Linked DNA regions of Homo sapiens. The protein of the gene in region 2 purifies or fractionates together with the protein of the main gene of each other region. This does not show direct contact. Each region holds a gene or a part of one and is shown on either strand. Other genes may lie near its edges. The genes, in order: LIMA1 and DENND1A.

The links.
Region 1: the proteins of DENND1A (region 2) and LIMA1 purify together in Homo sapiens (affinity purification with mass spectrometry; 2 studies listed by BioGRID and IntAct, with this or other methods). This does not show direct contact.

What each region holds. Positions count from the first base shown.
Region 1 is NC_000012.12:50,273,425-50,280,800, forward strand, and holds part of LIMA1 (LIM domain and actin-binding protein 1), read right to left. Parts: intron 1-7,376. UniProt on the Homo sapiens protein: Actin-binding protein involved in actin cytoskeleton regulation and dynamics. Increases the number and size of actin stress fibers and inhibits membrane ruffling. Inhibits actin filament depolymerization.
Region 2 is NC_000009.12:123,926,944-123,935,255, reverse strand, and holds the start of DENND1A (DENN domain-containing protein 1A), read left to right. Parts: upstream 1-5,129; 5' UTR 5,130-5,331; coding exon of another isoform or gene 5,332-5,350; coding exon 5,351-5,367; intron 5,368-5,590; exon of another isoform or gene 5,591-6,599; coding exon of another isoform or gene 6,600-6,661; intron 6,662-8,312. UniProt on the Homo sapiens protein: Guanine nucleotide exchange factor (GEF) regulating clathrin-mediated endocytosis through RAB35 activation. Promotes the exchange of GDP to GTP, converting inactive GDP-bound RAB35 into its active GTP-bound form.

The DNA.
Region 1 (7,376 bases), on a different chromosome or scaffold from region 2:
CATCTCAAAAACAGGTATTGATTCACACAGGATGCTTATGAGGACTAAATGAAAGGATAAAAGCAAAAGTACTTTGAAAACTGTCAGCTACTCTACAAAGCATTATTTTAAATAAAACTTCAAGCCAGCATTAAGAAAAAAAATGGAATTAAAAAAGACTAACCAATGAAAAGAAATAGAAATTAGAACTAATTCATTATAATGTCTGGTTCAACTAGATGTTAATAAGAAACCTTTTGTTTAAAGCTGTTGCTGAAAATCTTTCTAATCAGTACACTGTCTAAACAGTGTGTCTAAACAGTAACACATTTCAGAGCATGTGTTAATAGTAAGTATAATGAAAATCATTTCATTTTTTCTTGAAGATTCTAGATAGCTTTCTAATTTTTCTCCTAGAGAATGAAAACAGAAGAAAACTTCTGGTTGTTTGTGGATTCCAGTAATTGGGTTTTAGTTTTGCCACACTGGCTTTTGAAAATGTAATAGGAGTTGATAGACTAGTATAATCCAGAGTAACAATCTGGGAAGTAGATGGCTATAGTGGTAGGAAAATAGTGGCCTGGATCCTGGAAACACCTTAGAAAACTTGCACTCAGATGGAACTTAATCCTGGTTGTCACAGTATCCAAACTTTTGTCCTGCTACCTTCCGAACTCCTCAGAGACTGCTACCTGATTTGAACCCAGATGGACCGACCTCAGCTGTTGTCCAGTTAAAAAAAATACAACACTTTGGATTGCAAAACAAAACAAGACTTGTCCAAATGAAAAGTCCATCTTCAAGGCTTATTCATTCATTCAACAAATATTTATTTAGCATTTACCAAGTCTTTGGCAGTATTCCAAGTGCTGAAGATATAATGTTAAAAATGACAGACAAGGCCGAGCGCGATGGCTCACGCCTGTAATCCCAGCACTTTGAGAGGCCAAGGCAGGCGGATAATGAGGTCGAGAGATGCAGACCATCCTGGCCAACATGGTGAAATCCTGTCGCTACCAAAAATAAAAAATTTAGCTGGGTGTGGTGGCAGGTGCCTGGAGTCCCAGCTACTTGGGAGGCTGAAGCAGGAGACTCTTGAACCTGGGAGTTGGAGGTTGCAGTGAGTCAAGATCGTGCCATTCCACTCCACCCTGGGTGACAGAGTGAGGCTCCATCTCAAAAAAAAAAAAGACAGACATGGTCTCTACTCTCATGAAATTTCCATTCCACTGGAGAAGCCGGACAATTAAAGACTGTGATTAGTGGTGTGAAGGAAATACAAAAAGAGTAACTGGAGTTGTGGTAGGAACAGGGACACGAACAGCTTCTTTAGGCAGTGATCAGGGAAGGCCTCATTGAGTGAATGACATTTGAACTGAAACCTGAATGATGGGGAGAACATATGCAGCCAGCAAGGTGAAGACAATAGATGGGGGAGTTTTCCAGGTAGAGGAAAGCAAATGCAAAGGCCCTGAGGAAGGAATAATACAGCTAGGAAGTAAGTGAGAAGCATGCGATGACACAGAGATGAGTAGTAGTCAGATTAAATACGGATTAATAACAATGCTAAAGGATTTTAATTTTATTCTATGTGTGATACAAAGCCAAACATTATTATATAAAAGTGTGTTTGCAAGATCAGATATATTTCATGTACTAAATGAGTACTTTGGCCAGGTGCGGTGGCTCATGCCTATAATCCCAGCACTTTGGGAAGCTGAGGTGGGCAGATCACTTGAGGCCAGGAGTTCTAGACCAGCCTGGCCAACATGGTGAAACCCTGTCTCTACTAATAATACAAAAAAAAAACAAAATTAGCCAGGCGTGGTGGCGCGTGCCTGTAGTCCCAGCTACTCCGGAGGTCTGAGGCATGAGAATCACCTGAACCCAGGAGGTGGGGGTTGCAGTGAGCTGAGATTGCGCCATTGCACTCCAACCTGGGACAGAATGAAACTGTGTCTCAAAATAATAAAATAAAATGAGTTCTTAATTGTTTATATGTGCATAATGGCCACAAAATGAAAAGGAAGGGAAAGGTTCTCATACCTAAAAGGCTTGTAATCTTACAAGGAAGCAATAATTTATAAATAGTGACAACATTAAGTAAGGTAAGAAATGAAGCAAAAATCAAGTGTTAAGTATAAAGACTGGGGAGGCAGCCACTGATTCAAGTAGAAGAAATTAGAAAAGGCTTTTTTTTATTAAAAAAATTTAAAAAGGTAGCATTTGATTTGGGCTCTTAAGGAAAAGGATTTCAACAAGAGGGTGGGGAAGGGGAGGAGCATGAGGCTGTGGTAACTGCATGAGCAAAGGCACAGAGGCAGGAAAGAACTGGGCAGGTCCAGGAAACAGAGAATTATTGTAGGGTCACAGTGCCAGGTGGGTGGGTCGTGTTGTGGGAGATAAGCCTAAAAGAATAGGCTGTCAGAGTGGGGGTGTGGGTGTCTTGAAGAGCATGTCAGAAAGCTAGACTGAATTTACTTAGGCATTGTCTCCCCTTAAGTTTGTATATAAATCTCTTGAGGTACTTGATAAACTTCAGGTTCCCAGGCCCATCCCTCAGACACACTGATCTGCAGGTCTAGGTGGGACCTGAGACTCTACCTTTTTAACCACTGCCAGGTAATTCTAACACAGGCAATTAAAGGAACCATATTTTGAAAATCAGTGCTTTTTTTTTTTATGACAACTCTGATAACTTTTCTGCAAGGGAAAAACTGAAGCCAACTCTAAGGATTACTCAAGGACTCAAGGACTCTGGCAAAAAACTAAAAGGGGAATCTGAATTAGAAGACTGATTAAAGAACTCTTATCACCCCTGGGGCAGAATCAGCCAAACTTGGGGATTGATCAAATGTGGGTGGAGAAAAGTATTAAAGTGGTAAGTACAACCTCAAGCTTTCTCCTTAGTGAATCTGGGTGTACGCAGATGCATGGCGTACAGGGACTATCCACATAGCCTAACAGGTAGCTGGAAATACAGATCTGGAACTCAGATATACAAAGGCATTAAACATATTGGTTTGGTACTTCAAAGTAAGTTCAATACAAATTAAAGAATTAAATATAAAGTGTAAAACGGTAAAAATCAGAAGGAAATGAAAGTGAGTATTTAACCAATCTCTGGATGGTGAAGGCCTTCTAAACATCACAGCACCAGAAGAAATCTCAAATTTAAAAATCCAGGCTGGGTGTGGTGGCTCACGCCTGTAATTGTAACACTTTGGAAGGCCGAGGCGGGCAGATTACCTGGGTCAGGAGTTCAAGACCAGCCTGGCCAATATGGAGAAACCCTGTCTCTACTAAAAATACAAAAATTAGCTAGGCGTGGTGGCATGTGCCTGTAATCCCAGCTACTTGGGAGGCTGAGGCATGAGAATCACTTGAACCCTGGAGGAGGAGGCTAGAGTGAGCCGAGATTGTGCCACTGCACTCCAGCCTGGGTGACTGAGTGACACACTGTCTCAAAAAAAAAAAAATCTATAGATAAGTAATAATATACTATATACAAAATTAAAAGGCAAACTGGTTAAATATTTGACCACAGGACAAAAAATTAATATTCTTAGAAGAGTTTATACCAATCTCAAAGAAAAACACTAAGAATGGTTCTGTATGAAGTAGAAGAAGTTGTTAAATAACTTGCCTTGGAGACGTACACCCTCTAGTCACAAAATGAGACATTTTTCACATACATTGTAGATAATCGAGTTTTGTGGCACAGGTCAGCAGGGCTTCTGTGATTTTATCTTACCAGTTTCCAAGTGTCAGTCTATGGGAGTGCCTAAAAAAATACCAATCTTTTTGACTTCTTTTTTTTTCTTTTCTTCCCCCAACCCCCACAGCAAGAACCCCATTCAATTTTTTTTTTATACTTCTATTTTCCTGAAAGTTAAAGGGCACAAACAAATTAAGCTGTCCCCAGGCTCCCCTTGCTACTCCGGTGGACACTGCCTTTACTGCATCCAGTCTTTCCTCAGGCTCTATATATCTAAAATTAGGTGAAAGGTTAGAGATGAGACAGAAAGTAATTCCAGAATGTCTAGTGAACAGTAGTAGCTCCAAAGGCATCCTTTCAGCACAGAGGTTGTCCAGTCTTGGGGATCAAAAGCCCAACCCTCTCATTTTACAGATGAGGCTCTGAGTCAATGAATCAATGACTTGTCCAAGATCACCTGATTGGTTGATGACAACATTAAGTTGGGAATCCTGACTCTCAAATAGCACCCTTTCCATTCTGCAGTACTGCTTCATTGATCACAAGCTCTGGCCCCTCAAAACAATGGGCATTTATAACACCACAATTCCAACTTCTGTATACTTTCCACTTTGTCACTCCATTCACTCTATTTGGTCTAATAAAAGCCTGTGCTTCCCCCACAAAACGCTCCAAATAAAAGAATACCAAACAAAAAACCAACATAATTAAAATGTTAACGCCCAAATAAAAATGGGAGTGGGATTAACCCAGACATAATTCACAGAAGAAACAGAAATGAATGTATGAAAAATGTTCTCTCTCACTAGCAAAGAAATACAAATTAATTCATTTCTGCCTATCAAATTAGTAAAGATTAAAAAATAATATTCGGGCCGGGCGCGGTGGCTCATGCTGTAATCCCAGCACTTTGGGAGGCCGAGGTGGGCAGATCTCCTGAGGTCAGGGGCTTGAGGTCAGCCTGATCAACAGGGTGAAACCCTGTCTCTACTAAAAAACACAAAAATTAGCCAGACGGGCTGGGCGAGGTGGCTCATGCCTGTAATCCCAGCACTTTGGGAGGCCGAGGTGGGCGGATCACAAGGTCAGGAGATTGAGACCATCCTGGCTAACACGGTGAAACCCCATCTCTACTAAAAATAAAAAAAAAAATAGCCAGGTGTGGTGGCGGGCACCTGTAGTCCCAGCTACTCAGGAGTCTGAGGCAGGAGAATGGCATGAACCCGGGACGTGGAGCTTGCAGTGAGCAGAGATCGTGCCACTGCACTCCAGCCTGGGCGACAGAGCGAGACTCCATCTCAAAAATCATCATAATAATAATATTCAATGTTACCAAGGCCGCACTAAGATGGGCACTCACAATCACTGCAGTTGAGAATGTTAATTAGTCTAATCTTTACAAAAAGCAATTTGGGAGCAGGTTTAGTATTTTTAAATTTTCACACTCCTTGACCTGGTAATTCAACCTCTGGGAATCTAACCTAAGGAAATAATGAGTCATTTGCACAAAGATTTATGCATAAATTTGTTCTCAATTGTTTTCATTTAATGTAAAACCAAAACACAAATAAATTATGCAACCTCAATATAATAAATTATTAAATAGATTACAATGGAGATTAAATATCCATTTAAATGTTTTCAAAAATTTTTGATGCTATGAAAAATAATATAAAGCAAAAAAAGCAGACACAAAACTATATCTACTGCAACAGTATGAGTTCAATTACCTTTGTGTTTATGTGAGTGTGTGTATATCAAAGAAAACAAAACCACTGAAAGGAAATATATCAAATGATAGATCTCTCTGGAACAGATTATGGAATATGGGTTATTTTGTCTTCTTTATAATTTGTTTTTTCCACATTTTCTTTTTTTCTTTTCTTTTCTTTTTTTTTTTTTGATATGGAGTCTTGCTTTGTCACCCAGGCTGGAGTGCAGTGGCATGAGCTTGGCTCTCTGCAACCTCTGCCTCCTGGGTTCAAGGGATTCTCCTGCTTCAGCCTCCTTAGTAGCTGGGACTACAGGCATGCGCCACCATGCCCAGCTAATTTTTGTATTTTTAGTAGAGATGGGGTTTCACTATGTTGGCCAGGCTGGTCTCGAACTCCTGACCTCAAGTGATCACCCGCCTCAGCCTCCCAAAGTGCTGGGATTACAGGCATGAGCCATCACACCCGGCCTGTTTTTTCCACATTTTCTATAATAAACATATATAATTTTTATTTTATAATAATATAAATATCTATAATTTTTATTTTTAAATGTGTTGGCATATATGAAAATAAAACAATTATATATACAATATGAAAGAAGTTTTTTAAAAAGATAAATTTTCAGGCCACTTACATGGAGGTGATAGTGGAAGTCATGGAAAGAAATCAGATTATAAAGGGAGAAAGTATAGTGAGAATAGGAAGCTGAGCAGGGCTATGGTGAACCCGGCATTTAAGGGGCAAAAAGACTGAGTTAATGGATCATGGGAGTAAGTGGTTAGATTAGAAAATGGAGAACCAGATAGTAGTCATGTCAAGAAAAGCAAATGAAAGGAAGAACTAGACAAGTTGTTCACTTGGTCAGTTATTGCCAAGGGGTAAGGACCGTTAGACAGAAACCACTGGATACTATGCATGGACAGACAGCTTTCCTGTAGTGCTGGAAGCCAAATTTTTGCTCAGACGCCAAAGCTGAGCAAATGTTACCTGTTTAGTAAAACTGACTATGAAATAAAAGAAGTCCCGGGGCATTAGCTTGAATTTCAGTTTATGGAGAAAAAAAAGATTGTGGAAATCTAAAACTAAGTAAAGCGGATATTGGGACTAATTTATGGGTAATGAAACAAAAATGGCAATACTTTGTGCAAGACAAAACATATTTGAAGGACTGTAAAGTTTTCCATATCATAAACTCTGTTACAGAATAATTAAGGGGGAAAATAGATCCACACTTGTTATCAGAAGTACAAAAAAGTTGCATCTTTTTTTCCCCTAAAGATGAAAGTTCTTAGTTTCAGGGTAGTAGTATTTTTTTTTTTTTTTTTTTTTTTTTTTTGAGACGGAGTCTCACTCTGTCACGCAGGCTGGAGTGCAGTGGCGCGATCTCCGCTCACTGCAAGCTCCGCCTCCCGGGTTCACGCCATTCTCCCGCCTCAGCCTCCCGAGTAGCTAGGACTACAGGCGCCTGCCACCACGCCCGGCTAATTTTGTTTTTGTATTTTTAGTAGAGACTGGGTTTCACCATGTTAGCTAGGATGGTCTCGATCTCCTGACCTCGTGATCCTCCCGCCTCGGCCTCCCAAAGTGCTGGGATTACAGGCGTGAGCCACCGCGCCCGGCCCAGGGTAGTAGTATTAAGAAATTATTTAAAAGAACATCAAAAGAATGTAAAATTTTCATGGTATCATGTTAACTTCTTATGAGTGGACACAGGAAGTCTCTAGAAAGTTTTCACGTGTCAAGAAATCATCTGACATGCTGAATAATGGATTGCTTGTTAGGTCAAACTCCATCCTTTTTATGAAAAGAGGTCTTCAGTAGCACAATAATTTGACTGAGTCTTGAGGACTCTGCACCCAGCTTCAGAATAAACTCATCAGTATGGTCCTACCTTATCATCCACCATAGACTCTCAACTCCATAATCATTAAGTAGAAACTACTTCATTTACAACCACTGGTTTG
Region 2 (8,312 bases):
TTTTACCACAATTTTTAAAAATGTATAAAAAATAGAAGGTGAGCAAATGCACCAACTGAATATACTAAGTTCAAATTTAAGAAAGCACTTCCCAAATCTTGTTCTGTGGCTTATTATTCTTGAGGAATGTGCCTCAAAATAAGGGTTTTGTGGTTGTTTAGTTATTTTTTCAAAAAATATTTACCGGTCACTGCCTGCGTGCTAGGCTCTGTACTAGATGTTGAGAAGTAGGTATGGACAAACCTGATGTGGTTCCTCTCTTTATCAATTTGACCATTTAGCAGAATAATATTCCCATTCATTGAAAACCAAATATAGAGCAAGAAGCTTAAATTCTTCATTTTGTTTTATCTTTGTAAAGTGGGTATTATCATCCTCTTATTAAAGAAGAAGAAACCAAGGCTCAGAAAATTTAAGTAACATTCTCCAAGTTCACCCAACTAGCAACCTGGGTCCATCTGGCTCCAGAGTCACAATAACCAAAAGAAGAAAGCAATCCAGGATGGGCGCCGTGGCTCACGCCTGTAATCCCAGCACTTTGGGAGGCTGAGGTGGGCGGATCACAAGGTCAAGAGATTGAGACCAGCCTGGCCAACATGGTGAAACCCTGTCTCTACTAAAAATACAAAAATTAGCTGGGCATGGTGGCACACGCCTGTAGTTCCAGCTACTCATGTGGCTGAGGCAAGAGAATACCTTGAACCCGGTAGGTGGAGGTTGCAGTGAGCTGAGAAGTGAGCTGAGATTGCGTCACTGCACTCCAGCCTGGTGACAGAGTGAGACTCAAAAAAAAGAAAACAATCCAAAAGTCCATCAGCTAAAACCATTGAAATGTACACATTTAAAGTGGTAAATTGTATGGTTGGTGAACTACATTTCAATAAAAAATAATATAATCACAATTTAACGTATTAGGAACAACAGACCACTGAATCCTGGCACACAGACCATTTGTTCTGCTATTTCGTATTGTATAATTGGGGGCCAATAGAGCTCCCTGGGGTTGCTGTCTTCCCCTCAATAAACACAGCTCCCTAAATTCCAAGCAGAGAAACCAAACAGGTACAAAAGAGCAAGAGCAAGCTTGGAAACTGAGGAGCATCAAAGTGTCAATGCAGGTGGTATCATCCCTACCGTTGGACTTTTATCTGCTAGATCTGCTTAGCCTATTTTGACAACAGTCAAGAAGGCAAAGTTCCTAAATCCTTTCTCTTCACCAGAAGATTTACATTCCAACAATTGATTATGGCATGTATTTGGCACAGAGGTCTCATTTCATTTGAATGACGTCAGATTCACCTAGGTTTAAAGGAATTATAAAATCAATCAGCCACTGAATTATAGAACTTTAGAACCCAAAAGGACTTTGGAAGGAGGTCACCTGGCCTGATTCTCTTATTTTGGTTAAATCTGTGGCTTGCTCAAAATCACATAGCCAAGCATGGCTGAGCCTGCTGGGTGTCTTGCAATATCTATCCTCCCCTTCTTTCCTGGAAATGCCATTCCCTTCTCCCTACCTTTCAGCTGCGGACCTTATTGTCTGGTTGTCTGGAATAAAGGCTGTATTTTCTAGTGAGGTGTGGTTGCATGACTAAATTCTGGCCACTGGGATGTAAATAGAAGTGGTGTGAGTAATTCCTGGGAAGTACACTTAAAGGTCAGAGTTTGACGTGGACAGATCCTCCTTCCTTCCTGCAGGCTGGGCTGCAGATTAGATAGCTAGAGTTTAAGCAGCCATCCTGGACTATGAGGTGGAAATTCTTCCTGGAGAATCGGAGAGCAATAAGATAGAATTCTGGGTCTCCATTAATTATAGAATTGTCATACCAGCTCTGGAATGTTAATCGCCAGACTTTATGTGAAAGAGAAATAAAATTCTATTTTTTTCAACAATTGTTATTTCACTTCTCTATCATTTACAGTTGAATTGAATTCTAACTGATACAGAACGTGAACAAACAAGTTGGGCTGAGAACTCAGGTCTCCCGAATCCAAGCATGGTACTCTTTATTATTATGTTGATCAGTTTTACAAAATGTATTTATTTATTTCAGAGATGGGGCCTCGCTATGTTGCTCAGGGTGGAGTGCAGTGGCTATTCATGGGCATGATCATAGCGTGCTGCAGCCTCAAAATCCTAGGCTCAGCCTTAAACTCCTGGGCTCAGCCTCCTGAGTAGCTGGCACTACAGGAACAAGCCACGGAGCTGGGTACTTTTTTTTTTTTTTTTTTGAGACGGAGTTTTGCTCTGTCGCCCAGGCTGGAGTGCAGTGGCATGATCTCGGCTCACTGCAAAATCCGCCTCCTGGGTTCACGCCATTCTCCTGCCTCAGGCTCCCATGTAGCTGGGACTACAGGTGCCCACCACCACGCCCAGCTAATTTTTGGTATTTTTTTTTAGTACAGATGGGGTTTCACCATGTTAGCCAGGATGGTCTCCATCTCCTGACCTCATGATCTGCCCGCCTCAGCCTCCCAAAGTCCTGGGATTACAGGCATGAGCCACCATGCCCGGCCTTTGTTTTTCCTTTGAGACAGTCTTGCTCTGTTGCCCAGGCTGGAGTGCAGTGGCGTGATCTCGGCTCACTACAACTTCTGCCTTCTGGGTTCAAGCGATTCTCCTGCCTCAGCCTCTTGAGTAGCTGGGACCACAGGCGCCTGCCACCACACCCGGCTAAATTTTTTCTATTTTTTAGTAGAGATGGGTTTTCACCATGTTGGTGGTCAGGCTGGTCTTGAACTCCTGGCCTCAAGTGATCCACTCGCCTTGGCCTCCCAAAGTGCTGGGATTACAGGTGTGAGCCACCATGCCCAGCCACTGGTTGCCTTATTAATTTTAATAATAAAAGCCAAACGGTGCTAAGTGTTTTGTATATAATAGTTGCTTTTAATTTTTGAGTACTTAATATGTGATAATCACTGTTTAAATACTTTATAAATGTCACTAACTCACTTAATCCTCGTGTCAACTCACTAAAATAGGTCTATTATTATCACCATTTCCATTTTACAGACAGAGAACCTGAGACACACAGAGAAGGAATAATTCACCCAAGGCCATATATTTAGTAAGAGGTAGAGCTGAGATTTAAACCCTGGCAGTCTGGTTCTAGAGCCTGTGCTCTTTGCTCCTATGTTACACTCGCTCTTATGATGGAAGCTTCTCATCACTCTCTCTGCCCATTTTACGGGGGAGGAAACTAAAACATACACTTGTCTAATCATTTGCATAAAATCTGCCAGTCAATGCTGAAGCCAGAATTAGAAGCCACGTTCCTAACTCCCAGTCCAGTGCTCTCTCCTCAGACCACCCTGCTGTCTCTGAGGCCACCTGAGCAGACACATAATCCCCACCTTCTACCTCCCTCTCCAACACACACACACACACACACACACACACACACACACACACACACCCCACCCAGCAGGCACCCAGACATATTTGTGGCCAGGATGGCTACAACCTCCTTTGAAAAGCAGCCAGCTTTGCCCTCCACCAATAACTTTGTTTTATTTATAGTCTCCTGCTCAGAGCTTTTGAACTGGCTCCCATTCCAGGGAAGATCTTGATAGCAACTGTTCCTTGGAGAAGTTTCATAGGTGAATAAACACCACAGAGCTCCTGCCTGTCTAGCAGAGCTTTGCTCCTGGGGGTGTTTACAAGTCGGTATTGGTGTCTGGGTGCATAAGACTTTAAATTCAAAATGACAGTTTGGACATTTTCACTTTTTTTTTGGTTTTCATTTTAAAAAGTTTACCCTTTGACTTCAACAACCTAAAGGCAGAGGCAAAAGGGAGAAACTATCTTTATTCAGAAGGTGACTCCAACAGAAGAAGTCTTCTACGACTTATCTTCTGGCTTTCTTTCCTCCCATCCTGGCCGGGAGCTAGGACGCAGGACCAGTTACGTAGAGGCTATGGGGTGGGGGTAGGGTGGGGAGGCACTCCATGCATTTATAAGAACTAAAATGGCAGAAGTGATGAATGGCATTTCGGGACAGAAAATTGGAAAAAAAAAAAAAAAAAGGAAAAAAAGCCTAATATTAAAAATGTCTTTGGACTTGTGGCCAAAGGTGCCACCTTAAAGCATGACTATGTCACAGGTGTCTGGAATGATTCAGTCTGGACACTAATCTTGGCTTCTTCACTCGTTGCTAGTTATGTGACCTTGGGAATGTGGCTCAGTTTCCTCTTTGTAAATTAGGGAGATGAACACAGGATTATTGTGAGGATTGGCACTAATGATGTACGGAAATACTGTGTCTGATGCAGAAAGGGCACTCACCCGCTCATTAAAGGGTGGCTAATGGTAGCTGTGATTATTGCTTCCTTTATGATCCCTCTGGCCCTAGAGGGGATGAAATTGAGGTGTTCATGGAAGTGAATCCCAAGGGGGAGCAGGGGTAGGTAGCAGGCTGGTGATCTCGGCTCTCAAATCCTTTCATTTGCATTGAGTTAATCTCTATCAGGGACTGTTGTGTTAACAGGAGGCTTCGATGTTGGAGTTCCCAAAACGGCTGATAAAGGGAGGCAGAGGTCCTCAGCGGGAGGGCAGAGCTGAGCCACCACGTGGGTCCACGAAGCCCCCAGGTGGCTTTCCTGTAGGTATGTGGGGTCTCCTTCAAGCTCTAAGGGGAAAGGAAGAGGAAAGGCCTTCAGATGGGGAAGTGGACGGTGTGATGGAGAAGAGGTTCTGCACGGAACTTACTGGAAGGTGCGGGATGTTAAAGGGAAAACGTGTTTTCATGGAGGCCTGGGCGGGGGATTAGCTCTCCGTTAGAGAGGCTGGGTGGGAGGCCTCCAATGGGAGGATTGGTGGCGGTTTCATCGGGAGGGCTTGGGGTCTCCATGAGAGGATTAGGGTCTCTTCAGGGCGGCTGTGAGTGGAGGTTTCCAGCGGGGCGCAGTGGGGTGCAGATGTGTAAGGGCCTGCAACGGAACGCCAGAGTCCTCCGGGGCCCGCGCCCTGGGAGACGTGCGGGTGACCGCGCTCCCGCCCCGCCCCCACCGGCCACGGCCCCGCCCCCGCGAGCGGACTACACTTCCCAGCAGCCCCAGCGGGCAGCGGCGGCGGCAGCGCGGGCGGGAGGGGCGGTGGTGAGAGGCGGAGGGGGCGGCGCGCGCCGGGCACGCGCGCCGGCGACCATGGCGTTCGCCGGGCTGGAGCGAGTACATTAACCCCTGGAGGCGGCGGCGGCGGCGAGGGAGCGAGCCTCGAGCGGGCGGGCCCCAGCCTGAGGGAAGGGAGGAAGGGGCGGGGAGAGCGCCAGAGGGAGGCCGGTCGGCCGCGGGCGGGCGGGCAGCGCAGCGCCGAGCGGGGCCCGCGGGCCCATGAGGAGGCCTGGGGACCATGGGCTCCAGGATCAAGTGAGTGCGGCCGGGCCGGGCGGAGCCGGGCCGGGCGCGGGGCGGCGAGGCCGGGCCAGGGCTGCAGGCCGCGGGCCGCGCGGGGGACTTGTTGCCGAGACCAGAGGGGCGCCCCGCGTGACGCCGGCACGCGGGGAGGGGGACGGTTGCTATGGCGATCCAGGGAGGCGCGGGGGCGGGGTGCGCGCGGGGTGGCAGGGCGCCGGGGGTCAGGTGTCCCCTCCTCACCTGGGGGTCGGAACAGCTGAGATTACAGGGCGGCCCCCTCCCCGGGTTTACGGAGAGCCCCTGAAAATGGTCCTTCAACTGTGGGGAAGGGGAGTGGGAAAGCCCCGGAAGCACCTCCCCATGTTTGGGCATGTTTGGGGCGCCCCTGAAAGTTGGCAGGTCCGGAGAGGTTGCAGCCTGGCCGCTTGAGGCCTGCGGCCCCCACAGAAGTCGCGTGAGGTTCTTAGAGGGAGGGGCCGCTCATGGTGTGGCCACCTAAGGTGTGGATGGCCGGGGAGGAAGGCCTGTCTCTCTATTTCCCCCCTCTTATCTGTGAAAATCTCCACGCAGCAAGGTCCAAAGGCTGTGAAGGAGGATACCTCTGTGTTGTAACCGAGCACCTGCTCTTGATAATCGTTGGAAAGGCTTTGTAACTCAATCTGGCGAATTCCCTCACTCATTCATTCACCTGGAGTTCCCGGTGGAGGGTTAGCTTTCCGGGGAAATTGTTGATACATGTAACTTCAGAATCCACTGAAACATTGTTGCTGTCCTTGTAGACTTAGAAGTTGACTTTGGAAAGTGCAACTCTTAAGCGGTCCAATTTGGGTGTGTGGCTTTCGACTCTATCTCCCCTCCCAGCCAGGTCCTCTTGTGGCCTCTCCCTTCCTCTGCCCCAGAACTGGAGATGTTTTATCTCTAATTACTAACAAATGTTCACTTTTTCCTCTGTGACTAATAGAATTGTTTAAGGGCATTAAAAAGCAAAGTTGACAGCATAGGCTTTTCTGTAAAACAACTTTCCTAGGACACTTTAAACCCTCTTACAAGAAAGTTTGTGGAATGTGTTTATTTCAGCATTTTGAGAATTGTACTAGGGAAGTTTGAAAGGAGAAGGGCCTTAAGGGTGAAACTAATAATTATTCAAACATTGCATCTCATGTCCAGGTGATGCCCGTGCAGTGTGACCCTTGCCCAGCCTTGCAGTCCCCCGTGTGGTTAGGCTTCTCATTTACAAAATATGTATGAGATGCGCTGCAGCAGCCTTGAGACATCTGCTGAATGAAACTAGAAAAGTTTGCTTATGGTAATGAAAATGGAAGAGTCGCATGAACACTCTGTTAAATCTTTATTTTTGTGGAAATGAGAAAAAAGTTAGAAGCATGCTCCAAACAAGAGCTTGAGAGGCTTGGGAGGTAAAAAGATGTCGTTTGTGAAACATTGGGATTAAAGAGGCACTCAAGTTTAGCTCCTGCTTCCAAGTAAGAGTTGTAAACTTGGATTTCAATAGCACTTAGAAACACTTTCCAGAAGCCAACTTAGAGTTGCAGAGTATGCGTGAGGACACTTACCCTTCTTGTTACAGAAAAGTTCAGAAACTTGCCTGACATGAAGCAGTGAGTGTCAGAACCAGTATTAAAATCCAGCAAGTAAAAGTTCAGATGGCTAGCCATCAAATCTCTCTGTTGCTCTCCAAGGTAGCAGGTTGACAAATACATTTCTCAAATGTGTTTTGTGGAACCCATCGCTAATTCTGAGCACTTGGGTTAGGGAATTTACTAAGGCATGGAATTGTATTAAGCGTGAAATGAGTATGAAGAATAGCCTTATTGATCTTGAAACTAGACTACTCTGTGATAAAAACTTAGGCTTGGGAAATATGTTAGCTTGTGGTGAAACCGAAAGAGAATATGAAGAGAGAAGTTATGAAAAGTAGTTGTGATTTATAGTGACTGTTGATTATGCAACTTCTGCCTGTAGCTAGGAATGGGGATGGACAGGAAATTACCCACTTAAGTGCTCCTCTAGTTGTTGGAGAAGACAGAGCTTTGGTTACTACTGGCTGGCTTTCCCTCCTGGCAGGGCATTCAAGATGTTCTCCTGGCTGTGGTGAAATCTAAGTGTGCAGGTTCCATTGAATAGGACAGTCTTGGAGGTAGGGACAAGGGGGAGGGGTTCCTTTTGTTTTCTCTTGCTTATCTCTGATGCAGCAAGTCAGTTGACTAGGTGGAATCAGGTCTAGGTTCAAATTCCAGCTCTTTTTAATGCTAATTATGAAACTTTACACAGACTGCCTTTTCAACCTCAGTTTCCCTGAAGGTAAAATGGGGAGGACTGTGTCCAGGTTGTAGGGTTATTATGAGCATTGAACACAGTATCAATGTAAATGTCAGGTCCATGTTAAAAACTCAGTAATTGTTAGGTTTTTTTCTTTTTTTTCACCTTCTGTATCAAAAGACTAAGAACATTACTGTATATTAGAAATGTCAGAGAAAGGTATGTTTAAGGTAATGGAGAAGAAAATTTTAATGACCAAGGAATTAGGCTGTTAACATGCAGAGTAGGGCTTAACATTGTCTCATTATTAAAAAATAAAAGTTGATTTAAAACAATATTGTGTGTAATTGTGAAGCTGGTGTCTGTTGTGTGATCAGTGGTAAAGCACGTGAGTTGCTAGGCACAGGTGTTGAGATTTCGTGTTTGATCAGACTTCTCTTTTAAGTTTAAGCCTGGTTGAACACAATCTCTGTCAGGTACCGTGGAAATCCTTAATGTGAACCATTTCATGAAACCCTCACTACTGTCCAGTGGTGGCGATGCTATTTATTAACCACATTTTTCAAATGAGAGAATGGGAGTTTATAGGCCTAAGATCAGATGCCATCCCCCAGACGCCTGCCTTGATGCCAGTTTCCTGTTGCCACCCCCACCCCCTCCTGTTCCAGTCTAGGCCAGGT